Homo sapiens: one gene and its partners. The protein of the gene in region 1 interacts with the protein of each later gene in a biochemical or structural test. Each region holds a gene or a part of one and is shown in the gene's direction. Other genes may lie near its edges. The genes, in order: MAGI1, SLC15A2, PLXNB1, OR8G1, ZSCAN30, CCDC134 and KIDINS220.

Evidence for each region.
Region 2: the proteins of MAGI1 (region 1) and SLC15A2 interact in a test that uses a peptide from one of them, tested with the Homo sapiens proteins (one large-scale study listed by IntAct).
Region 3: the proteins of MAGI1 (region 1) and PLXNB1 interact in a test that uses a peptide from one of them, tested with the Homo sapiens proteins (one large-scale study listed by IntAct).
Region 4: the proteins of MAGI1 (region 1) and OR8G1 interact in a test that uses a peptide from one of them, tested with the Homo sapiens proteins (one large-scale study listed by IntAct).
Region 5: the proteins of MAGI1 (region 1) and ZSCAN30 interact in a test that uses a peptide from one of them, tested with the Homo sapiens proteins (one large-scale study listed by IntAct).
Region 6: the proteins of MAGI1 (region 1) and CCDC134 interact in a test that uses a peptide from one of them, tested with the Homo sapiens proteins (one large-scale study listed by IntAct).
Region 7: the proteins of MAGI1 (region 1) and KIDINS220 interact in a test that uses a peptide from one of them, tested with the Homo sapiens proteins (one large-scale study listed by IntAct).

What each region holds. Positions count from the first base shown.
Region 1 is NC_000003.12:65,353,026-65,356,918, reverse strand, and holds the end of MAGI1 (membrane-associated guanylate kinase, WW and PDZ domain-containing protein 1), read left to right. Parts: coding exon 1-541; 3' UTR 542-3,393; downstream 3,394-3,893. UniProt on the Homo sapiens protein: Plays a role in coupling actin fibers to cell junctions in endothelial cells, via its interaction with AMOTL2 and CDH5. May regulate acid-induced ASIC3 currents by modulating its expression at the cell surface.
Region 2 is NC_000003.12:121,921,901-121,925,400, forward strand, and holds part of SLC15A2 (solute carrier family 15 member 2), read left to right. Parts: intron 1-319; coding exon 320-402; intron 403-874; coding exon 875-961; intron 962-1,139; coding exon 1,140-1,229; intron 1,230-1,321; coding exon 1,322-1,366; intron 1,367-2,450; coding exon 2,451-2,483; intron 2,484-3,044; coding exon 3,045-3,133; intron 3,134-3,500. UniProt on the Homo sapiens protein: Proton-coupled amino-acid transporter that transports oligopeptides of 2 to 4 amino acids with a preference for dipeptides. Transports neutral and anionic dipeptides with a proton to peptide stoichiometry of 2:1 or 3:1.
Region 3 is NC_000003.12:48,409,587-48,413,086, reverse strand, and holds part of PLXNB1 (plexin-B1 precursor), read left to right. Parts: coding exon 1-18; intron 19-127; coding exon 128-345; intron 346-466; coding exon 467-645; intron 646-782; coding exon 783-849; intron 850-1,077; coding exon 1,078-1,224; intron 1,225-2,050; coding exon 2,051-2,219; intron 2,220-2,528; coding exon 2,529-2,632; intron 2,633-2,703; coding exon of another isoform or gene 2,704-2,706; coding exon 2,707-2,791; intron 2,792-3,009; coding exon 3,010-3,182; intron 3,183-3,355; coding exon 3,356-3,500. UniProt on the Homo sapiens protein: Receptor for SEMA4D. Plays a role in GABAergic synapse development. Mediates SEMA4A- and SEMA4D-dependent inhibitory synapse development. Plays a role in RHOA activation and subsequent changes of the actin cytoskeleton.
Region 4 is NC_000011.10:124,239,818-124,243,894, forward strand, and holds the start of OR8G1 (olfactory receptor 8G1), read left to right. Parts: upstream 1-1,277; 5' UTR 1,278-1,547; intron 1,548-4,077. UniProt on the Homo sapiens protein: Odorant receptor.
Region 5 is NC_000018.10:35,280,230-35,283,729, reverse strand, and holds part of ZSCAN30 (zinc finger and SCAN domain-containing protein 30), read left to right. Parts: intron 1-3,500. UniProt on the Homo sapiens protein: May be involved in transcriptional regulation.
Region 6 is NC_000022.11:41,807,179-41,810,678, forward strand, and holds part of CCDC134 (coiled-coil domain-containing protein 134 isoform 1 precursor), read left to right. Parts: intron 1-1,696; 5' UTR 1,697-1,712; coding exon 1,713-1,815; intron 1,816-2,700; coding exon 2,701-2,822; intron 2,823-3,028; coding exon 3,029-3,113; intron 3,114-3,500. UniProt on the Homo sapiens protein: Molecular adapter required to prevent protein hyperglycosylation of HSP90B1: during translation, associates with nascent HSP90B1 and the STT3A catalytic component of the OST-A complex and tethers them to a specialized translocon that forms a microenvironment for HSP90B1 folding.
Region 7 is NC_000002.12:8,729,614-8,733,113, reverse strand, and holds part of KIDINS220 (kinase D-interacting substrate of 220 kDa), read left to right. Parts: intron 1-1,131; coding exon 1,132-2,394; 3' UTR 2,395-3,500. UniProt on the Homo sapiens protein: Promotes a prolonged MAP-kinase signaling by neurotrophins through activation of a Rap1-dependent mechanism. Provides a docking site for the CRKL-C3G complex, resulting in Rap1-dependent sustained ERK activation.

The sequences.
Region 1 (3,893 bases):
TGGGACTTCGAGGAAACCCGACAGCGGGGCATGCCGACCCAAGGACCGGGCGCCGGAGGGACGGAGGGACGCGCAGGCCGAGCGCGCGGCAGCCGCCAACGGCCCCAAGAGGCGGTCCCCAGAGAAGCGGAGGGAGGGCACCCGCAGCGCCGACAACACTTTGGAGAGGAGGGAGAAGCACGAGAAGAGACGAGACGTCTCTCCGGAGCGGAGGCGAGAGCGGTCACCCACCCGCAGGAGAGACGGCTCCCCCAGCCGGCGGAGACGGTCTCTGGAGAGACTCCTGGAGCAGAGGAGGTCCCCCGAGCGCAGGAGAGGGGGCTCGCCCGAGCGCAGGGCCAAGTCCACCGACCGGAGGCGCGCACGCTCCCCCGAGCGCAGGAGAGAGCGGTCCCTGGACAAAAGGAACAGAGAGGACAGAGCCAGCCACCGAGAAAGGGAAGAGGCGAATCTGAAACAGGATGCCGGCAGAAGTTCCAGACATCCCCCGGAGCAGAGAAGGCGACCTTACAAAGAATGTAGCACCGACCTCAGTATCTGAGACGCTGAGTCACATTCCAACCTTTACCGTGTCAAAGGTTCTAAGAGGAAAGTCACAAACCTGAAATTATTTAGTTTCTTACCTAATGAAGCATCTGACACCTGATGATCCTATGAATAACAACAAACATTTTATGCATTTGAAATCTTATAAGAAAAAATATATATGAAAAGTATTGTGCCTGATGTATCATATTAAAGAAAGTATTTTTAAATGCATACTTTTTTGGAAATTATTTGCCAAATGCTGGCCCAAAGGGATATAAATTTTGTTTCTACGTAACCTGTAGAATCGTCAAGAATTGTTCCCGTTTTGGGGCAATCTTTTTCTCTCCTGGTTAAATGGGGCTGTTGATCATTTTCTCTACGTAAGGGAATTTATTGATTAAGTTTAATTAATTTGATATAGACTGTCATGTAGTGATGTAGTGCTATACTGTAGTCGGAAGTTTTTCTTAAAAGCAAAGAGCAAAAATGCAAAGTTTTATTTGTAAAAGCTGAGGACCCTTGGGGATGGATTAGGTTTGCCGATGATCCTAAAAGTAAGCAAACTGTATGACAAGACTACTATTGCAAATGAAGGATATTTATAGCTAAACTGCGCAGCACAAAGAAGTTTTATATTGTGAGTTATAGTTGGTTCAGAAAACAGTTTGTACTCTCCCTGGCCCAGGAAGGCACACAGACAAAAATGTCGGCCACTTTTACTCAAATACAGCCCAAGCACAGACAGTCAGGTTCGTGATCATCACCAACATCTGATAAAATCTCATTGAAGGCAATGCCATCACAGCTTTGCTCAATTACTACGAGGAAGAGACAACAAGCATCTTTCGTGTTGTCTCGTCTGATTGGAGGCTGAATAGTAGATGGAATGGGGGGACAGTGTGCCTGGTGTGAGGAAGACGTAAGATCCCCAATTTGGAAAGCATGCCCCCCTCCCTTTTAGTAGAAGCCCATGGTTGCCCTTTGCCAAACTGGGGAGGAGGCAATGAGCCTTGGTGGAAGGAACCTCTCTGTTGATATTTAAAGAAGTGAGGGCTGTGGGTATTCATTGTTAGAAATGCCAATTTCACTTTGAAACCATAGTCCAAGTCTCTAGGTTGGTAGAAGGGAAAGGAAGGAAGTGGTCCCAGTGATTCTAGGTCTGGTTGGGAAACTTCTGCCTCATGACTCTGTCCTTTGAGTCCTTTGGACAGCAGCACAAAACATAACAATTTTTATTTTTAAACAGACCCATTCTTTTTGATCCCACAGGAGCTGTGGTTGGGTCGGCCGTAGCCCCGGGATGTGGTTTAAGTGGATTACTGCCTAGCTGAGCCAAAATGTTTGCTTGTACCTGTTGGACCACTACAGCAAACCGCTGCTTACAGTGCATTGTGTATTTCTGTAGTACTGTTTTGCATTTTCCATAGAGACAGAAAACTTTGCAAGTCAATCACTGTTGTTCCCATGGTACTGTAAGAAAAAAAAAAAGGAAAAAGAAAAAAAAAAAGAAAACCAGCCAATCATTGCGTGTACAGAGCTAAAAATTGTAATTAATAGAGCCTGTTGGGAAAAAAAAGAAAACAACTGTTGCCTTTTTTTCTTGTATAAAAGAGAATTTATGACAAAATTTAGCTGTGAGGAATGTGATACGTGTTTATATTTCTGAATATGGAACAAATTGATTCATGGGGATATATTTTAATGTAAACTAAATCAGGTATGTAAAGTTGTTTTAAAATGGGAGACTATATAAGTAATTCTCTAAAGCTTTAGTTGGTTTGAATATCATCATTTCCTCCATGGTGAGCCTGCTTGTGAATTATTAAGCACTTGTTTGCATTCTCTGTTCTTCACTCATTTATTTCTTGCAGTGTGCTATGGACTTAATGCTCTTTCTGTATTGATGAAAAGCAGTATGTGGGCCAATCTTTTTATAAAACACTATGCATATATAAATATTACATTGTTCATAGCTTTATTTGACTTATGGGTTTATACATAACATTAGAATGAGTAGCTGTAGTTGTGTGGACATTTATAAAACAAGTTCCTTTCCTGGAACAGACACAATATACATTCTGTAGCTAAAAAGGAGGGAAAAGTCTGTGAATGCTATTTTTATTATTAAAGTTTTCCATACAAAGCATACATTGAGCTGTAGTAAGGCTGAGGAAGAGTACAACTGAATAATGATGTTCTTTTTCATCAAGTTCCTAAGAGCTGACTTGGAGATTTTATTCCCAGGGCTCCACTGCTAGGATTCTTCTCACTAGTTCTAACAAAATCTGTGATGTTAAATGACTGATGCTCTCAATTGTGATCCAGAGTTTTAAATAAATGAAATCAAGGTGGATTTTGGGAATATATCCTGAAGTTAACATCTTGATGTCCTTCTTGTTGTAAGATGATATTTGGCAATTTAAAATCTATGTGCTACCCACCTGGGCTTGTCTCAATCCGTGGACTTTTTGGTGTGGCAGTTTCACCTGAATTCCACACATCAGATTTGTTTGGAAATATTGTACTGTACAGGGACTATGCATTATGCAGAAAGATATAGTTTTCTTTGAACTGCTGTAACCTTAAATTGGAAACTGATTCTTGTGAGCCTACTTTCCTTAATCCCGCCGCCCCCCTCCCCCACTTAATGTAAATGTCTTGATGAGAGATAATGGATGAGTATTTTGTATGATGAAATCAAACGATTTAGGAATTTGTCTCCCTCCGTTACACAGTTGATGCCTGAAAGAATGTTGGGGGGGAGGACTCAACACCCTAATTGTATTTTTTAAGTTTCTTTTGTGAAAGATTTTTTAATGCATTTTTACTGTAAAAATACATGGAAATGTATGCATTCCACAACCACTATTGCTTCTGGATTGATATCTTCCTTGTCTCTATGTTGTCTCAAATGTATCAGGGTCAAGTAATCAATTGAGGGCCCCTGACTCCAACTTGATGAAATGCCGTTGTGTTGAAAGAGCAGGATCTATGCCATTGCAATAGCATAGTGCCTTGCTACTCAAAGTGTGGTCTGTGGACCAGCTGCCTCATCATCACTGAGGAGCTTGTTAGAAATGCAGATTCTCAGCCCTACTCCAGACCTACTGAGTCAGAATGTACAGTTAATAAGATCCTCAGCTATGCCTTATGCACATGAAAGTTTAAACAGCACAGCACAGTATAGCACAGAACCCTGATAATAAAACAAATCCTGCCAAGCTAAGAGCTTCATCACTTCTGGTGTGATTCTTGGGCACATTCCTTAACCTCCTCTGAAGCCTCCATTTCCTCATCTGTAAAAGGACATACTTCACAGAGCTAAGAATAGATACACATCTTTGGCAATCAGAAGAGTCCTCAGT
Region 2 (3,500 bases), about 57 Mb from region 1:
GACTTCCACTTCTGTGATTACATGAAAGTCTCAATAGATATCTCTCTTAACAACATACCATTTTGTCTTCTCTTGGCTCCTGCAATTTTGATAACTCCAAAAGTCAGGAAATGTAAGTCAGCTCCCTCTTTATGAGATTTGCCAGCCACTCCCACAGTTCAGCATTCTGTCCTTAGCGCTGATATACTGAATGTGCTATTTAGGTTTGTGCAAAAGTTATTGTGGTTTTTGCCATTGAAAGTAATGGCAAAACTGCAATAACCTTTGCACCAACCTAATAAATGAGAAGCTAAGAACCTTGTTTGTGTATCAACTGCAGTTGTGTTTGCAATGGGAAGCAAAATATACAATAAACCACCCCCTGAAGGAAACATAGTGGCTCAAGTTTTCAAATGTATCTGGGTAAGTCCATAAATTGTTTTCTTGCCTTTTTCAATCAAAAGAAAGAGATGCTATGCTGAGAATATGGGCCTTCAAACGTGGGCATACATTTTTCTCAATGACCTCTATTCTATTTTCATGTTTTTTAACAAGCTAAGATTAACCAGTCTTCTTCTTATGCCTCTACTTAACCATTAAGTTAAAAAAAGTAATCATCTTTTTAAGTTGGCAAAAATCTTCTGAAATGTAATTATATATAGACAGATAACATTTTTTCTTTTTTGTTGTTATTTTTTGTTTTGAATGGCAAGTTCTTTCTTAAAGTGATAGATAAAATTATATCAGAAATATTCTGAAATTCAATGCCTGATTAGGTCAAAGAGTTGGAATAAGTCACTAGAAGTATGGTGTTTGAAGGAAGGTATAATAAGTTGGAAAAGGCAGAGGATGTTTTTCTCTTTGTCTCTCCCATGATGTCTACTCTCTGCCCTAGTTTGCTATTTCCAATCGTTTCAAGAACCGTTCTGGAGACATTCCAAAGCGACAGCACTGGCTAGACTGGGCGGCTGAGAAATATCCAGTAAGTTGGAAATGCAGAAACATCTTATGGCTTGATAGAGTCTTTCCTAATGTTCAAAATGATTCTATCCTACTGCATTCAACCTCCTCTCTACTGTTTTTTGGACACTTCTACTTTAAGCAAGAAAGCCATGTACAGAACTTCTAGCATTTCTGCCCATTCTTCCTCCTTTTCGCAGAAGCAGCTCATTATGGATGTAAAGGCACTGACCAGGGTACTATTCCTTTATATCCCATTGCCCATGTTCTGGGCTCTTTTGGATCAGCAGGTAAGAATAGTTCTTTTGGACATTACCGCTCCTTACAGCCACTTCCCTCTCACAGGAAAGGGATTTCTCATAACAGGATCTGTTTGCCCTAGGGTTCACGATGGACTTTGCAAGCCATCAGGATGAATAGGAATTTGGTGAGTAGAAGAGATTTTCCAGAGAAGTCTATTATTTTCTTCATCATCCATATTGGGGAAAAATTAATTTCTTTGTGATTTTGCCTGAAAACTAACAAGATCTTCAGAGAAGTGCTTTTAGCCTGAAGGTACCGTGTAGGCAAAGATAAAGAAAGCTAGTTTAGAAATAAAAACCAGAATCTTCTCTTTAGAAATCAGGAACATAAGGATGAGAAAGTTTCAATGTATACAAGGAAGTATTGAGAGGCTAGCAAATGATGTGATGCGTAACCTGGGATAGTGATTTTCTTCTGTCTAAGCCTATCCCAGAGTACAGCAGGGACAGGTTTGAGTGGCACTACTACGCAATTGGTCTATCTCTTCAACAAGGATCACAGCAGGGGACCTGTGGGAAATGGAATATTTTGTATGTATGGATATGGAAAGAATGAGAAGGTTATACGTATTATTTTCTCTTTTTCCAAACTCCATTCTTTAGCCCACTCAAATAAGGTACCATCTCTACTCTCAATTGTTCTTTTCCTAGATTAGTGTATTATTTTTCTATCTTCTCAGTTTTTGAAAAGACAGAGTAGAATGATACCAGGGTCTTATTAGTCAGTCTATTTGGAGCCTGCAAAATATAATTTTACCTTTTCCCTTCCTCTGGCTGTCTCTTATTTACCATGGTGGTCTTCTTGTTGACCCTCTGGAGAACAACTTTGGAAACACTATGTGTCAGGGAGAGTCTTCACCCTAACCATGATGTCTTGCCCTTCATATTATTACAACCTAGAACTGCAGTTGCTGAGATCAATAAAAATGCACTGACTCTATTCTCTTTCAAGTTAAGGAAAGCATAATACATAGAAAATAATTTCTCCCTTAGGCCCATCTGCCTGGCAAACATAGCCAGAAGCTTTCCCAAGTCTGTTCCCATCCCCCAAATAATCTTAACAGCAAAATAGTGGCCCTGAACCAAAGACCTGATGAATTTTCTCTCATATGTTTCTCACTTGCTAACTAGCAAAATTATTGATCTAGGCCAACATTTTTTTTTCTTTTCTTCAGACATCAACTAAATTAATTTGTTAAAATGTTTCAGGGGTTTTTTGTGCTTCAGCCGGACCAGATGCAGGTATGTGACTCTTCTATAGCCATGGGGACTTATTTGTTTCCTTATCTATGCCTCCACCTGCAGTATTACGATTAACAACCATAATTTGATGCTTTTCTCCTTGTACGCTGATAAGGGCCAAGCTTCGACATGAAAACATTCCCATTAAGCCCCACCCTTCTCCTTCACATCCCCTGTTAAGTACTTAACTTGCAACGGGTTAAGTGTAAGCATTGGATTTTTTTCCAAGTCAAGATAGTATAATCAAAATCTTGTAAAAGAAATTGTAAGGCTTATTTTGTGAGCAATGAAGTCATGAGAGGAAAGAGCTCACAATAAGGCTGGCAGAAAGACAGGCTCAGAGTGAAACTTGTCCCTTGGGATATTTGAAAGCTAAAATGCTATGCAAGGGAAATAGGGTCTTGGGTGTAAATGGACTGAGGAATGTGGAGTCATTCTGTACTTACAATGACAAAAGTGTGTGTAGATGTGAGACAGAGTGTAAACAAGCAAATGAGTGCAGTGCTCACACTCATGATAGGAGAATATTTGTAGCTAATCCTTTTTATCATGGTGTTACAGGTTCTAAATCCCCTTCTGGTTCTTATCTTCATCCCGTTGTTTGACTTTGTCATTTATCGTCTGGTCTCCAAGTGTGGAATTAACTTCTCGTAAGTGTTCACTATGTCTGTATGGATTACTCTAAATTGACTCAGTCTTTGCCCAGTTTGAAAAAGATTCAATGTCAGTATTTTTCTTAGTGAGGATTGGTTTTAGTTTATCATCTATCTGCTTCTATTTTTCCATGTTAGACTAACTGCCTATTGACCCTGAAAAATGTGAATTAGATATAATTAATGAGAGTCAAAGCCATTACTGTGGACTTAACTGTGTAATGGTGGTGGAGGGGCAGGTCTAGGTTTCATGCCAAACCAAAAATATGTGAAATTTAGCTCCTAAACCAACTTTCTTCTTTGTTCTTGAATGTTGTCTCTTCAAAGAAACTCAAGGCCTTTGATGACTACTAATCCCTTTAAA
Region 3 (3,500 bases), about 17 Mb from region 1:
GCAAGAAGGAATTCACAGGTGTGGCTGAGAGAATGGGCCCCGCCCTCCAGAACTCTGCCCAAACCCACTCCCATCACACGGGATTGGTGCTTAACAGGTGCTTAACCTGGCCTCTTCTGCTTAACAGACCTCATGACTGAGATGACCGATCTCACCAGTGACCTCCTGGGCAGCGGCATCCCCTTCCTCGACTACAAGGTGTATGCGGAGAGGATCTTCTTCCCTGGGCACCGCGAGTCGCCCTTGCACCGGGACCTGGGTGTGCCTGAGAGCAGACGGCCCACTGTGGAGCAAGGGCTGGGGCAGCTCTCTAACCTGCTCAACAGCAAGCTCTTCCTCACCAAGGTACCCCCAGCTGCATCTTCCTGGCCTGCCCCTGGCCCTGCCCCTTCTCCAGGGCATGGTTTCTGAGCCCGCCCCTCTGTCCCCCTAAACCCCTTTTCCCATCCCTTCTCTTTGGCTGCAGTTCATCCACACGCTGGAGAGCCAGCGCACCTTTTCAGCTCGGGACCGTGCCTACGTGGCATCTCTGCTCACCGTGGCACTGCATGGGAAGCTTGAGTATTTCACTGACATCCTCCGCACTCTGCTCAGTGACCTGGTTGCCCAGTATGTGGCCAAGAACCCCAAGCTGATGCTGCGCAGGTCTGTGTGGCTGTTGGGGCTGGGTGGGCCCTGGACAGCTGGAGCTGGGGTGGGGCCTCGGGCTGGGGGGTCTGCAGGATAGAGAGGCCCGCAGCCCCACCTGCTGACCCTGGCACTCCCCTTTCCCATCATCTCAGGACAGAGACTGTGGTGGAGAAGCTGCTCACCAACTGGATGTCCATCTGTCTGTATACCTTCGTGAGGGTGAGGGGGCAGAGGTGGACAGGGCTCCTGTCCAGGGAGGGTCAGGCCCTCCAAACTTCTAAGCCCTCAGCCACCATGCAGCTCGGACACTTGTGCCAGAGCAGAGACTCCTGCTCAGCCTGTCCTCAGTCCCCTTAAGCCCATGTCCTGTCCCCTTCCCCAGTGTGCGTCATGTCCCATACACCTCTGCCACCTGCTGGGGGGCCCTAACTGCCTGTGCTCTCCTAGGACTCCGTAGGGGAGCCTCTGTACATGCTCTTTCGAGGGATTAAGCACCAAGTGGATAAGGGGCCAGTGGACAGTGTGACAGGCAAGGCCAAATACACCTTGAACGACAACCGCCTGCTCAGAGAGGATGTGGAGTACCGTCCCCTGGTGAGGGTGTGCAAGTGTGTGGCCTGCAGTCTGAGTGCGGTGAGGGCGAGGGTGGAGAGTGTGTGGGTGTGTGGGGTCTGGACACCAGCTTCTGATGTGGTACCTGGATGTAGAGCTGGGTTGACCTCTGGCTGGCTCCTGGAGAGAGCCCATCAGACTAGCTTAGCAGGATAGCAGTTTAGGGCAGACTTTGATGATAAGGCCTCTATGTGCCCCAGGCTAGGGATGGAACTAGGGTAGCCACAACCAGGGTTTGGGAGAAGCCAGCCCTACCTTAGACCATGGGCTTGAGCTGTGTCAGGGCCTGACCCTGTCTGCCTGGCCCTCCTACCAGGAATGCGGCCTTGCCCACCAAGCCAGCCTCACTCTGGCAGGCACTTCTCTCTGGGTTTGCTTTCCCCTTAGTTACGCACAAGGGTTCCTGTGGGAAACCCCCATTCAGGCCTGCTGAACCCCTCCCCTGTCGGATAGGTGGGAATATTTGCTCCCGATGGTGGGAATGCAGGCTTCCCGAAACTCCGTCAGCCTGACCCATTCAGCCAGGAACCTGGGGATCTGAGTGATGAGGGACTTGTGCTCACTCATTTTTTTCTGCCATTTACCCCATAGTGGTTTACAAGTGCACTGCGCTAGGTGCTGGGGTCACAATGGGGAGGAAGCTGCTGTCCCTGGGGAAGGCAGGCAGGTGAAGAGACGAGAATTAGGGATTGTGTGGTGCGTGGGGATTGGAGGCAGCAGTTTCTCATGAGTTGTCTCTGCCCTTGGCCTGTGTCTTGGTCATCCTGAGTGCACATGAACCCTGATGGCTCCTGTGTGTCCTGCACAGACCTTGAATGCACTATTGGCTGTGGGGCCTGGGGCAGGAGAGGCCCAGGGCGTGCCCGTGAAGGTCCTAGACTGTGACACCATCTCCCAGGCAAAGGAGAAGATGCTGGACCAGCTTTATAAAGGAGTGCCTCTCACCCAGCGGCCAGACCCTCGCACCCTTGATGTTGGTGAGGGCGTGGAGAGCCCCTGGGGACCTGAGCCACTGTTGGGCCTGGGCTGGCCCCGGACCAACTCTGCAGGGACAACTCATCACTCAGGGTGGGGAGGATGCTGGGAGGCAGGCAGAAGCTGGCTTTGGAACATCTTTCTTGGACAGCCTCTCATCTGGGGAGGGGGTCCCTGCTCTTGGTCTTTGGAGAGGTTGAGTAAGGCTGCCCCATGATGGAGGGGCTGGTGTCCCTGTGGAGGAGGAGATGGGCTCCACTATGGGAAGGGTATCTTCCAGCCCTGCACCCAGTTCTGCCTTGCCCTTGCAGAGTGGCGGTCTGGGGTGGCCGGGCACCTCATTCTTTCTGACGAGGATGTCACTTCTGAGGTCCAGGGTCTGTGGAGGCGCCTGAACACACTGCAGCATTACAAGGTAGGAGGAGTGGGAGCTGGAGGAGGGCATGGTGGGGTGGGACTGGTGGAGGGATCACCAGCTGTGCTCAGCAGGTCCCAGATGGAGCAACTGTGGCCCTCGTCCCCTGCCTCACCAAGCATGTGCTCCGGGAAAACCAGGATTATGTCCCTGGAGAGCGTGAGTACCGCTCCCATCACGGTCCTCTGCCCCTGCTGTGCCCAGCCCGGAGTCATGGGGAAGGTCCTCTGGGCCTCAGGGCAGGCTTGTGCCTATTTCCATTCGGCCCAGGAAATCCCTCAACCAGGTGCCCCCACCCCTGGGAGAGCTGGCAAGAAACAGGGGGCCTGGGGAGGTGGCACCTGGGGAGGGGTGACAGCTGTGGGCTCTTGGCACAGGGACCCCAATGCTGGAGGATGTAGATGAGGGGGGCATCCGGCCCTGGCACCTGGTGAAGCCAAGTGATGAGCCGGAGCCGCCCAGGCCTCGGAGGGGCAGCCTTCGGGGCGGGGAGCGTGAGCGCGCCAAGGCCATCCCTGAGATCTACCTGACCCGCCTGCTGTCCATGAAGGTGGGGTGGGGCTGCCAAGGTAGTGGGGCCTGGGCTGAGAGGGAGCATGGCCACTCGTGGGATTTGGGGGTGGTGTGGGGCTCGTGCAGGCACAGTGCCGGGGGGTGTCTGAGGCTGGGCTGCTGCTGAGGGCCCTTTGCTGACCACACCTCTCTGCTTCTTCCTTCCCACAGGGCACCCTGCAGAAGTTCGTGGATGACCTGTTCCAGGTGATTCTCAGCACCAGCCGCCCCGTGCCGCTCGCTGTGAAGTACTTCTTTGACCTGCTGGATGAGCAGGCCCAGCAGCATGGCATCTCCGACCAGGACACCATCCACA
Region 4 (4,077 bases), on another chromosome or scaffold:
GGAAATATCATCTTCCAACAGTGATACCAACCTCATTTATTCTTTCCATTCAAAAAATAACAGAAATCATGACAATGTGTTAGTTGTAATCTCTAGTTTTTGCACAATGTTAGCCTGCAGCAGTCTCTTTTCTGCCCGATTCAACTAACTAAACTTGTCTTCCTTATTTCTTCCATTATTTTTTTTTTTTACTTCAGAAACCTATTCAAAACTTTAGAGTCAAAGTTGCAGACCCACGTGTGTGTTGTGATTGTACACTCCAGTATGCCCACTGCTTTGCCTTTTACTATTCTAATTTGTGCTGCCTGCTTATTGTCCAATGTGCCATGGGCTGTAATCTAGGATGAGATTATGAAAAAAAACTCCTTGTTGATTTTAAATGTGCAGCCATAGTAAAATCACTGATCTAGACCTACTTCATTCTCTTTAAAGACAATCAAACCTAGTGTTTTGTACGATTTTTCAGAGCTTCTAATATGTAACTTCCCATATAGTCTTTTTCAATTCCTTCATTTATTTGATGCACATTCAATATAAAATTTCATCTAATTTTATTTTGAAGAAAGTGAAAAACCATAAAAAGTAAGAAGTGGGGCACTTATATGGACTTATATGGAAACTAACTTCTCCAAAACTTAAATACTTTCTTCAGTTATAAAAATTAGGAGGCAGAATTTAAATCAACAAAGAAACTCAAAAATTAAGTATTATATCAATCCCTAAATTATTACACCATGCTTCCTGAAATACAATTATAAACAGATTTGAATTTTCAGTCAACTATATAAATTACCTATTTACACACAAATTAAAACTAAATATGTCTATTTGCAAGGAAATAAAAAGTGTGTTATTTTAAAGTTTTTAACTTTATTATCAGTACAAGATAACTTGTCAGGATGTGCCTAGTCCTCTCAAGTATATTAATCACAGTGTGTGCTGTGAACTAAATTACATTAGAAGCATGTAAGAAATGCAGAATTTCAAGCTCCACTCAGACCTATTGCATTAGAATCTGCATTTTAGCAGAGATAATCCTTGTGCACAAATATTTACCACCAATTGACAATTTTAAAATTGACAGGGAATTCGTTTACAGGAAAATTAGACAACTGGGGAAATGTCAAGTGTAATTGCTGGTTTTTTCCAAGAATTTGGTCCCTGAGAAATGGAAATCCCGGGAGAGTATTTGTCTCCATGTTTTTTGGTACCTCGCATATCTTAACCCAGGGCAAGCCTTTATAGCACAGCAATCAGAGCTGCTCAGGTGAGGATGCTTGCCACCCTGAAGCTGGAGAAACAAAAACTGCAAAGTCATAATTAGAAATACTGACCTGTGATGCAGACCAGCTTCAAAGTGACTCTGAGACTGAGGGCTGGGCCCTGCCCTCTCAACACTAAAGATTCCAGAATGCTGGGTGTCTATGACTCTCAACACCAACATTAATGCCATGTCAGGAAGAGAACATTCCAAGCCAACATTCTCCATGTCAGGAAGAGGAAATTGCAAGTAAAATCAAGCATTGAAGTTTTTAGGCAGTGGAAAGGTGAGTGTTTTCATCCATCACTTGTGATTTGAGACTATTAGATCTGGAAATAATCTTTGCAAAAAATCAGGAAACTATTATTCCTCATTATCTTTACTTATTCAATTATTTATGAAATGCTCTTTTAAACCCTCTTCAGTGGGCCAGCCACTTTGCTAGTTACTAGAGATACAGAGGAGAATAGCTCGGGTCCATCACTGGGCTTATAGAATAACTCAGTCAAAGAAAATGTGCTGTCTGGAAATCAGAGTTTTTGGAGCTTACAGTAGGAAGATCAACTTAATTACAATAAACTGGACAATATTTACATGATGACTTCATTTTAAATGAGATTTGAAAAGTAAATATTTACCAGACATCAGAAAGACAGGTGTTGGTAAGACTATCTAATGTAAAAGAAATAGCTAATGAAAAGGCTCAGTGAATGTGACAGACTCTAGGAACTGAAAGAAGCGAAGTGTTCCTGTAGCCAAGGAGGAGGATCACAGGAACTAAAAGTGAAGAGGGACAAGAGATAGCATGAATCTGTGTACTTTATCCTAAGTGTAATTAAGGCAACCTGTTCATCAGTGTCCCTGAAAGTGAATCATCATCTGATTTCTGGTCCAGTGTATTTTATGACCAGGAATAAGTAGCTCATTCAACTTCTAAGAACTCAAATACTAGAATATTTTCCTTTACATTTATTTTTATTTTTTTTCAGTAGTAAATTATTTATATATTTTTATTATTATTATACTTTAAGTTTTAGGGTACATGTGCACACTGTGCAGGTTAGTTACATTTATTAAAAGATGTATTCATAAATCTTTCAAATGCCACACACAAAATTAAAGCTTATCCTTGCTCTTCTTAGGATACATGAAAATGCTCACTAATTATCTCATTGCCTGCAAATATTTCCCAAGCTCTTGACAGCTTTTGTGTGCCTTCCATCTTATCAATGTCTTTCTTTTAAAAATATATCCATTGGAAAACGATGGACTCCAGGTGTAATATGATAAGTGTGGAATGGTGCTTTCTAACCTCATGAGCACATAGAAGATGGTCATATTAATATGGCATAATGAAGTTACTGGATGAGAAAGCTTGTGGCTGATGGTGACCAGTGAACTGGCTCTGAATGCCACAGTCTTATCTGTGAGAACCCGAGGGCTACAGACCAATACCTCTGAACCATTATGAACCTTTCCCTACATTTCAGTTCCATGGCATATGAGTTGGAAGCTATGTTACAGATCTTACATGGATTGCTAGTCATCATAGTCTAGCCATTATTTTTTTTATAAATGAAATCTGAATCTCCCCTTGCTTTATCCATCATCCACTATTCTATGGACTTCATTTAGTTAATACAGAAGTACACTTTTATGTTTTCTTATGAATTGTATTCAAACCAGATATGTTGTACATAAAGAATTAATCATTTAAACTAAGACTGGAAGTTAAGTATTTTTCTCACTCAATTTTAGCTTGTTTTTTTTAGCTATTTTCAGTGTCTAGAACCAACCACATTTTGCTGGTTGTCATAATATTTTAGGACTGAAGTTACAGTAACTTGGGAATATTGTTAACCAAAGGGTGTGTGTAGACCATACCATGGGGAATTGTCAATTCCCAAATCCATGTATAACTCACAAAAAGAAAGTTTCACAGTTTAATTCCATAGAACTCTTCCCAGCTGTAATCCCTACTATGATGATTACAATTAAAGTAATCAAAAACGTAAATGACTAAAAAAGTAGAGAAAAATGCTTTTGATATTCATGATGTTCAGTGACCTTACCTTATTCTTTGATATTATATAATTTATAACCCTACTTAGCTGGCTTTGGTCAGACCTTTTATTGCTACTGTCATATATACCCAATTTTTAACACGCAGGAGTAAACATAATAGACCAGGAGCCCTATATTTTTTATTTGTTCTTGTATTAACAGAAGACTATATTTTGTGTACATGTAAAGTATTTTTCAGAGCCTCATATTGATCCTATAGTGATCACATGAGGACACATAAATAATAGAAAATACATTTTTAAATGTATATATAACAGAATAGCTCTGAATTCGTTCGGGAAACCATTCAAAAGTTGCATGCCTCTCTAACTTTACTTCAGTTATTGAAATAATTGACACATCATCCCTTATTATGGTGAATATTAGACTTAGTATCAAGTCTCTACAACAGTATTTCTCTTCTTCTTAACACAGTCCTGTTGGGTTGTATAAACAATCAATTCACGTATTCATTGTATTGGCTATTTCTTCCAGTTTTATTTTATCTGTACATTAAATGATCACTCATTTCCATTTTAATCTTAACTAAATTATTGAAAACATTGTTAACAGGATAGAATTAGATTGAGAGTTCTATTAAAGCAGGGAATGTGTCATTTTACTTTTCATGCATTTTGGCTTCGGGTCAGTATTCGACCCCTTGTCTCTCAGTAATGATGGCTGAATAAAAGAGCGAGCTAGAATAGGTGCAGCAAACCACCATGGCACATGTATATCTATGTAACAAACCT
Region 5 (3,500 bases), on another chromosome or scaffold:
CCGTTGGGGCCCTGCATTTCCTGGAGTCTCCAAGCTTCTGGGCACCACTGTGGTGTACTTAGTCCAGTCACAGCCTTGCAGTGAGCCAGGGCCCGTACTGGCACCTGGAGCTGCCCACCCTGCTGCAGCAGCCAGCGTGCCTGACTGTGTGCAGTGGCCAGACCCCACACTCTTTCGCTCACACATCCCTTGCTACTTCACGCCTGGCTCACCCTTGGCAGGGGCGAGATACAGGCTGGTAGCATTAGCCAAGCACAGCCTGCCAGGCTGAGTGGGCAGAACGATCCCAGTGGGCCCAAGCAAAACTCAGGCAAAGGCACCACTGGCCACAGAGGTTTCTGACTAGAAAAGCAACACCCCAAGTATCCTGTGACACAGTGGCATGATCTCATCTCATTGCAACCTCCACCTCCTGGGTTCAAGCTATTCTTGTGCCTCAGCTTCTGGTGTAGCTGGGGCTACAGGTGCGTGCCACCACATCTATCTAATTTTTGTATTTTTTTTTTTTTAGTAGAGACGGGGTCTCACCATGTTGACCAGGCTGGTCTCAAACTCCTGACTTCAGGTGATCCGCCTGCCTCAGCCTTCCAAAGTGCTGGGATTTCAGGTGTGGCCTACCATGCCCAGCCTGTTATGCCTCTTGATTGACTCCTTTTTCATAATGAAATGACCTTCTTTATCCCTGATATATCAGTCAGTGTTCAACCAGAGACACAAAACAAGTAATTGAATATATGTATATGTACATATGGATTTGTTAAAGAGAATTGGCTTACACAATTATGAGAGCTAGTTAGGCACTCTTATAATGCTGTTGTGTCTGATGCTAGAATTTGATGTTGGCAGAGTAGTCAGAAAGGAAGATGGAAGTAAAGTGGGAGAAGTCAAGGTCAGGCTGGAAGTCACAAGTACAAACTTGAACCTCATGAAAATGGACTGAAATCCATGTTAGTTCTTGTTGCCTTTGACCTTGGTGGTGAGGGTATCCTTCAGAAGCTGGGGCTGTTTGTCATAAACACACATACATAGGCCAGGAGTTGGAGAAGCTGAAGGAGGATCTAGAGGATGGTAGAGTAGTTGCAGGCCAAGCTGCTACAAAATGAGTCAACAAAGTGAGTCACCAGTCAGCAACAACATATGTGAACTACAAATGGCTACTATTTCCTTTCCACATTACACATCTCCCAAAAATTGCCTTTTTGGCCCGCCCAAACTGTAAACATAAAATAAATAATTCTAGGAAAACTGGTGCACTTTAAGCAAGATGACACATTATAAAAGCATCATGGTCTGCCCCTTGTCAACTTAGTACCATACATGTTTCTTTAAGCCATACTTTAATTCTCCAAATTATGATAACAATGAAGTTGTGCTTTCACCTTACATAACACTACTATCACATAACTATTAACATGCTAACCATTTCCCAAAAGAGGAAAATAGTCTTTTTGTTGGTCCATGAATGGCATTCATTCTGCTCCCAGATGATAACCCTCCTTCTTTCATATCCTATAACTTAAATACTGACATATAAAGTTAACTATTAACACATATTGTGTTAGATGATAAGATGAGAGAAGGAAGAAACATAAATTTTCAAGTAGTTTCCAAAAGAAGCTGGGTGTATATCATTGCCCACCAGAATGTTCTTCTTGAATTCAACTAGACTTTTAGACCTTCAAGACTACTGCAGATCACCCTTGGCATCAGATTAACTTAGAAGGATAGGACAGAAGCCACAGCTGACCAGTAGGCAGCACCTACCCCTCTTCGGTGGTAGTGGTACTCACAGTATTTTACACAAGCATGCAGGGTTTTTTTTTTTTTTTGGCCTTCCCATTCCAAGTTGACAGCTCAGATGCAAGGAGATGAGACTTACATTGGGAACCTGTGGGATGCATCTGGATTAGAAACTTCCACAGGAGCTAATATGTCTTATAGCAACTCCATGGACATAGCTTCTAGAATTTCTGTAAGAGACATGCCAATTACAAGAGTCACTATACTCAGGGAGGCCCAAAGTTATAGTATCCATTAGCATAGTCAATATTTATAGTTCATTTATAATTCTTTTGGTAATCAGGAAACATTTTTACCATAAACAATATTGTTGGGTAACATAATTGACCTATTAATAAGTTTTCAATAAAACAGAATGAGAAAATTAACCAAAGGTTAATTCTCATGTACAAAGGTAAAGTGTTTTGTTAACCTTTTACCCAAAAGTGATGATATGAATGTAGATTTTTTTGGGTGTTTGACCAAGGAAGCCAAACCATTCTTTCAGATTATGTTAGATTTGTAGCTTTGTGGAGTGTTGCCAGAGATGTTGCTTTCTGTGTGTGAGTTTGATGAGCTAACCTGGAGTTTGTTTGTTGGACTGGCCAAAACAAATCTGAGCCAACTATGGTCCATATCAGCTGACACTGAAGAAGTTCCTCTCAATGAAGTAAATGGAATTGAAGGGTTTCCAGAGAGATTAGCAGTGATAATACAGGCATGGGAAGTGATATAAAATTCTCAAGAATGAAACTGATAGGCCACCACCAATATTCTACCTGAATTCTATTTCTCATTTCACTTGGGGGAAACTAGGTCAAACTAACATGTGTACTAATATATGTCTAACTTAGGCATACGCTCTAGAGCAGTGATTCTCAATCTTTTTGAGATAGTAAATTTATTTGAGAAAAGGATGAAAACTGCAGACTTCTTCCTCAGATAAATGAACATAAAGACCTACATGTGGACTTTTGCTTATCATGTATTGTATTGGAAATTAATTTTCTTTGATACTTAGACTGTGTAAACAATTTTCACAAGGAAGGGATTTCAATTTAAAAATCAATTTCCAGTTCTGGGGAAAAAAAGGAAATAAATCAAAATTGTGAAGCCACATTAAAAATTAACTTGCCTTTTGCTCATATTAACAAGTAGGCTGCTGCTCAAATAAATATTAACAAGTATTAACATGTTTGTTGTGAATAAGATCTTTAAATTATGGGTAATAAGACATCTTTGACATGTCAGTGTGCATGTCCAGTTGACACTGACTTCCTAAAACTCAGAACCAGTGCTGAAAACTCTGATTCAGAAAAGAAAATAATGGCCAGTGTAATCACAGTTCCCAAGGTTCACTTTGACAGAAGTGACTGGCCTTGTATCAAGAAATACTATAATTCCCCAAGATCTTTAAAGTTGAGTTCAGGTCAGATAATTCCCTTTGTTTTTTATCAGTAAGGTCATTGGCATCACCTTGAAAAATCTTTATCTGTTAAATAACTGAAAGCCAAGTCATGGTGTTTTGTGTGTGTGTGTGTATGTGTGTGTTTTCTTTCTTTTTTTTCAGTAAGTGTTGCTTGCCTTCTATGTCTCTCTCTCTGCCTCTCTCTCTCTTTTTATAAATGGTGGTTGCCTTCTCTGTCTCTCTCCTCTCTATTTTTTTTTTTTTTTTGAGACAAAGTATCACTGTGTCACCCAGGCCGGAGTGCAGTGGTGTG
Region 6 (3,500 bases), on another chromosome or scaffold:
AAGTTATACTAGAGGAAAACATTGTTTTTCTAGGCCCTCAAGACAGAATATTTGAGTGTCAGGCCGTAACAGCAGAGTTAGAACCAGAGAAAAAAGCTATAGTAGCCGGGTGCAGTGACTCACACCTGTATCCCAGTACTTTGGGAGGCCAAGATGGGTGGATCACTTGAGCCCAGGAGTTCAAGACTAGCCTGGGCAATGTAGCAAAACCCACGTCTAAGAAAAATACAAAAAATAGCCGTGCATGGCGGCATGCACCTGTAGTGCCAGCTATTCAGGAGGCTGAGGTGGGAGGATGGCTTGAGCCTGGGAAGTGGAGGCTGCAATGAGCCATGACTGTGCCACTGCACTCCAGCCTGGGCAGCAGAGCAGGACCCTGTCTCAAAAAAAAAAAAAAAAATTACAGGAACTAACAAAAAACATTTAAGAGAATTACCACCCCAGCCAAGTGAAAAGATGCATCCTTTCAAGGGGAGAAAGAGGAAGGGTGGAAGGCAGCAATGTATGTCCTGGGAATCACCAGGAAAGTGAACTTCACAGTGCTCAATAAATAATTGTGTTGGCTGGGCATAGTGGCTCACGCCTGTAATCCCAGTATTTGGGAGGCTGGGGCGAGAGGATCTCTTGAGCTCAGGAGTTGGAGACCAGCCTGGGCAATATAGCAAGACCTCATCTCTACTAAGGAAAAAATAAATAAAAAGGGCCGGGCGCGGTGGCTCACATCTGAATCCCAGCACTTTGGGAGGACAAGGCAGGCGGATCACCTGAGGTTGGGAGTTCGAGACCAGCCTGGCCAATATGGAGAAACCCCGTCTCTACTGAAAATACAGAATTAGCTGGGCATGGTGGCGCATGCGTGTAATCCCAGCTACTCAGGAGGCCGAGGCAGGAGAATCGCTTGAACCCGGGAGGTGGAGGTTGCAGTGAGCCGAGATTGCGCCATTCCACTCCAGCCTGAGCAACAAGAGTGAAACTCCATCTTAAAAAAAAAAAATTAAATTAAAATAAATAAATAATTGTTGCATGTTGCCTGAATATGAACAGGTATTCTATGTAGTACCTATGGTTCCAAAGTGAGTGAGTAGCAAGCCCCCTTACCCCGAGACTGCCCTGCCTTCCTCCCTGCCCTTTGTCCCTTCTTACTTTCTGATGACAAAAGTCAAGGAAGGAGGAAAACTCCAGAAGTTTCATATCTTCTCTGCCTGGGCTTCCTTGACCAGATGCTTTCCTGGGAGACCAGGATAGGGGATGTGGAAGGAATACTGTTGACGAGCCCCTCCTCCCCAGGCACAGTGCCTCACCCAGACCTCCCTCCCTGCAGCAGGGAGGTGACCTCCTTATCCCTGTTCTACAGCTGAGAAGGCTGAGGCTCAGAAAGGCTGGGCAAGCTGCTCGAGGTCCCAGAGACGGGCGGGGGCAGGGCTCCAGCCTAGAGCTCTAGCCACTGACCCTGTGCTCTAAGTGTTCCTGTGTTACACACACTTATCTTTCTCCCCACCTCCTAGCATCCCACGGCTCTGTATTGTGTGCCTGCTGGCCCTGGGATAAGAGCTGCAGCTTCAGGGCTCCCCAAAGCTGGGTTCTTGGTATACAGAGGCTGCACTATGTCGGGGGAAGCTGCTGTTCACCTGTGCACTCTATTTTATGTAACACCGATCTCTGAGTCTCACTCTCTTTCTTTGGGTTATTCTTCCAGCTCAAGAGGTTTGGATATGGACCTTCTTCAATTCCTGGCCTTCCTCTTTGTCCTGCTTTTGTCTGGGATGGGAGCCACAGGCACCTTGAGGACCTCCCTGGACCCAAGCCTGGAGATCTGTATCCTTTGGGGTTGTAGTTAATGAGCTGTCTTTGAGAGGTCTATAAATGAGGTTCTTCTACTCAGGGATTCCAGGGATAAGCAGGCCCAGCTGGCGGGAACAGGGAGAAAAGGTGAGGTGCTCTAGCCAGACCTTGAGCAAGTCAGGTCTCTCCGGAGCTTCAGCTTCCGCGTATGGTAAATGGAGATGACAAGGCCCATCTCTAGACTGCAAAGGCTCAGTGAGGACTGTGCATGGCCTGGCACCTTGTGGGCAAGATCCTGGGTGGAGACTCAGGAATTCTGGATTACTGGCCCATCTGGACCCTGGTGAACTGGGCCACCTGCTCCAGGCCAGGCCTCAAGGACACGAAGATGAATTACAACAAGTCCCCTGGCTTTGAGGTGTCCATAAGCCCAGGGGGAGAAAGTATCCAAACAAATGATCATGTTACTCTGTGACCAGTGCTCTGATGGGCACAGGAGGGGTCAGGGAGAAACACTGTGTGATGGTTTTTGAGCCAGGCCTTGAAAGGAAAGAAACTCCTAGAGGAGGGTGAGGGGCATCCTGGGCAGAGAGGGTGCAGCGCGAGCAGAGAGGTGGAGGCTCTGGAACAGTAGAATGCTTGTGGAGACGGCAGGAAGACCACAGCAAAGGGAAGGCAGGAGCCAGGTCTGGAGGCTTGGTTTCAGGCTTCTGGGTGTGGAGCGCCATGGGAACTGGATGAATAGTGCGTTGCAGGTCCATGCACTTGTCAGTTTGTTCATTTCCTGGAGGCTTCTAGCCCTGGGTGTCCATGGCCCTTGCAGATACTTGCTGGTCAGGAATGAGCCTTCTGAGGCAAGACTGCTGGATTGTCCAGGCAGGGCTATTGATGCCAGCCCCTTAACTTAATTCTGCCCAGACAAGAAGATGTTTGAGGTGAAGCGGCGGGAGCAGCTGTTGGCACTGAAGAACCTGGCACAGCTGAACGACATCCACCAGCAGTACAAGATCCTTGATGTCATGCTCAAGGGGCTCTTTAAGGTGTGTGCAGGCAGGGGGCAGCTCATGGCAGGTCCAGTCTTTGATCTAGGCACTGATGGGTAAACAGGAGTTCCCTAACGGGTTGGTGTTCAGGGACAGGGGAACTGCGCACACGTAAGACTTGAAGTGGGGTTTAAATAAATGGGGATGGGAGCAGTCTGTGATGGGCACTGCGAAGCCACTCAGCCCTGGCGGGATTCCCTCAGGTGCTGGAGGACTCCCGGACAGTGCTCACCGCTGCTGATGTGCTCCCAGATGGGCCCTTCCCCCAGGACGAGAAGCTGAAGGATGGTATGGTCTGCCCTGCCCCGCCCTGTCCTCCGCACCACCCGATCTTCTCTAGCTGCTCCTTCTCTCCTGTTCTTGTCACTCTTTTTTTCTCCCCGGAAGTGCCCTCTTGTGGCACCTTCTAAGTGGTCCCCTTGGGCAGATGGGCGTTTCGTGAGTGGCCTCCCTAATTAACTGGCTACTTTTTAGCAATAGCATTTCTTTTTTTTTTTTTTTTTTTTTTTTTGAGACAGAGTCTCACTCTGTCGCCAGGCTGGAGTACAGTGGTGTGATCTCGGCTCACTGCAACCTCCACTTCCCGCGTACAAGTGATTCTCCTGCCTCAGCCTCCCAAGTAGCTGGGACTACAGGCACATGCCGCCACACCCAGCTAGTTTTTGTATTCTTAAT
Region 7 (3,500 bases), on another chromosome or scaffold:
ATTCAGTAACTGTTGGTTGAAGTACATCTTCATTGGAACACTGGCCACATAGTGTCCCTTTGAGCACCATCCTTTGGTTTTCCAGGACGCCTGCACACCCTTCACGGATATTGGTTTCTTCTGGTCTGGCATTAGATGTAGGCGCGTTCTTCCTTTGGAGATTCTTAGAAGAAGGAGGCCAGGTGAGGGGTAGGGGTAGGGGCAGGGACAGAGCAAAGTGAGAGATGCAGGAGGAGTAGCGGGAGTGAGGAGAGCGCAGGAGGAAAAGCAGAGCAGGGTGTGGAGAACAACGGGGGAGGAGGCACAGCGGGCGGCAGCGAGTAACACTGAGTGGGCAGGGCAGGGCAGCGGTGAGGAGGAGCAGCGCCTTGGGGAAGGAAGAAAATGTCCTATTTCCTTGAGAAGGTCCCCAACAAATTCACTTTGCTCCTTCTTTTTTGTTTTAGCCTTTGCTCTTGACCCTTCTTAAACTTTCTTGATTCTTCTCCTTCTTTTTCCTCATCTGTACTTTTTGCTCCTTGTTTCTTAGCTATTCTGGGATCTGAAGCAAATTCTAATTCTAAAACTTAATATTGGAAATAAACTTGTAAAACTACTTTATTTTTCTGTTTACTAAGGCCCAACTATTGGCCTCATTGCATTTTATATTTTATCAATGAAGTTGACTTTGGCCTTAAATAAAAGCTAAACGTTTGAAGTTATAAAAACAAGTGCTGTGGCCGAGCATGTGGGACATGCCCATAGTCCCAGCTGCTCAGGAGGCTGAGGCGGGAGGATTGCTTGAGTCCAGTAGTTTGAATCTAGCCTGGGCAACACAGCAAGATCCTGTCTCTTAAAAATGAAATAAAAACCAGAAACAAGTGCTAAGATTATTTGTTAATACAGTGTTTAATCATACTTTTAAATATTAACAATAAACTGATTTTATTAAAATTTATAGAAAGCTTTCTAGTAACAGCATTATAAGGTCACAGCTTTTGTTAATCTGTGTTATGTAGAATTCTTTTAAAAGAATTTGATGTTTTGATGACTTTTTAAATGGTTAGTGTACATATATATTTCCTAAGCTGATGTTTATGCCTTTTTTCTTCTTATTTGAATTTTTAAATTATTTTTTTTCTGTCTTCACAGTCACAAACTCGCAGAACCCCAAGTCTTTCGAGTCTCAATTCCCAGGATTCCAGTATTGAAATTTCAAAGCTTACTGATAAGGTGCAGGCCGAGTATAGAGATGCCTATAGAGAATACATTGCTCAGATGTCCCAGTTAGAAGGGGGCCCCGGGTCTACAACCATTAGTGGCAGATCTTCTCCACATAGCACATATTACATGGGTCAGAGTTCATCAGGGGGCTCTATTCATTCAAACCTAGAGCAAGAAAAGGGGAAGGATAGTGAACCAAAGCCCGATGATGGGAGGAAGTCCTTTCTAATGAAGAGGGGAGATGTTATCGATTATTCATCATCAGGGGTTTCCACCAACGATGCTTCCCCCCTGGATCCTATCACTGAAGAAGATGAAAAATCAGATCAGTCAGGCAGTAAGCTTCTCCCAGGCAAGAAATCTTCCGAAAGGTCAAGCCTCTTCCAGACAGATTTGAAGCTTAAGGGAAGTGGGCTGCGCTATCAAAAACTCCCAAGTGACGAGGATGAATCTGGCACAGAAGAATCAGATAACACTCCACTGCTCAAAGATGACAAAGACAGAAAAGCCGAAGGGAAAGTAGAGAGAGTGCCGAAGTCTCCAGAACACAGTGCTGAGCCGATCAGAACCTTCATTAAAGCCAAAGAGTATTTATCGGATGCGCTCCTTGACAAAAAGGATTCATCGGATTCAGGAGTGAGATCCAGTGAAAGTTCTCCCAATCACTCTCTGCACAATGAAGTGGCGGATGACTCCCAGCTTGAAAAGGCAAATCTCATAGAGCTGGAAGATGACAGTCACAGCGGAAAGCGGGGAATCCCACATAGCCTGAGTGGCCTGCAAGATCCAATTATAGCTCGGATGTCCATTTGTTCAGAAGACAAGAAAAGCCCTTCCGAATGCAGCTTGATAGCCAGCAGCCCTGAAGAAAACTGGCCTGCATGCCAGAAAGCCTACAACCTGAACCGAACTCCCAGCACCGTGACTCTGAACAACAATAGTGCTCCAGCCAACAGAGCCAATCAAAATTTCGATGAGATGGAGGGAATTAGGGAGACTTCTCAAGTCATTTTGAGGCCTAGTTCCAGTCCCAACCCAACCACTATTCAGAATGAGAATCTAAAAAGCATGACACATAAGCGAAGCCAACGTTCAAGTTACACAAGGCTCTCCAAAGATCCTCCGGAGCTCCATGCAGCAGCCTCTTCTGAGAGCACAGGCTTTGGAGAAGAAAGAGAAAGCATTCTTTGAGAAAAACAAGCAAAGGAGAAGAGTGTTACTGTACCTTTATGACAGAATTGTCCTGGATTTTGACTCCATCCACGCCCATCACCTTTCTACATTTTGCTGACAGATAACTAACCGATGATGAGGCCGAGGTAAAAGAGACATCTGCAGTGTGACAGAAGGGAGCATGAGAAGCATGGCTCACCAGCCAGCCTCTGTGGTCTTTGTAATTAGAAGCTTCAGAACTCACTAATACTACTGTACCTTTCATTGGCGCATTACCCCATAAAACTTTTTGAGACGAGGTGAGATCTGAGTATAAAGATAGGTCAGAAGTATTTTAAAGGGCTTAATGTGCCAAAAAGAAAAAAAGCTAGAGACCCTTTTTGCAAACATTTGGTGACCACACATTTGAGGGAAGACGTGGCGTTAGGTGAAGCAGAAGCAAACCCTGCTCTTAGGGGCTCACCTAGGTGAGTGCACAGCCTGTGACGCTACAGGGAGAGGCTGAGTAAACCGAGATCCAGCGTTCTGTATGGCAGGGGTATTGCTTATCACAGAGGTTCTGAAGAGTAGGAAGTACATAATGAAGAGGGCTTTAAAAATTGCCAACAAAGTGAGTCACCAGGGCTGGCAGTAGTGTGACGGGGCTGTCCTGAGCTGTTAGGAGAGTAGATGCGGGGAGGGCTGGTGACCTCCGTGGGTTTATATGTCGGAAACTCTTCTCTCCAAATCCCAGGCCTGGCTTCCAGCACCATCCAGCTGTGCCCAAGAAGCCACCCTGGTCTGTTCTCCAACTCTTTTAAATGGTGCCCAACTTTTCTAAGTGAGCTTAGCAATGAGAAGAAAAAAAAACATGAATTCTTTTTCTGGAAAATCAGGGAGACATGGGTAATAATAGGTACTAATAAATATTTATAGATGAGTGAATGAGGAAATAATTACATCAAAAAGGTCAGTGACAATTGATAAATGACAAGGAAATATTTAATTAGGTAAAACTAAATCATTGCTCTCTATACTAGGATAGACTTTATCTACTTCATCTGTTCCTAAGTCAGCATGTTAGTTCTGGGGAAGGATCATAAGAAAGGAAATACTTTTTAAAAAAAAATTTGGAAACATGTAAC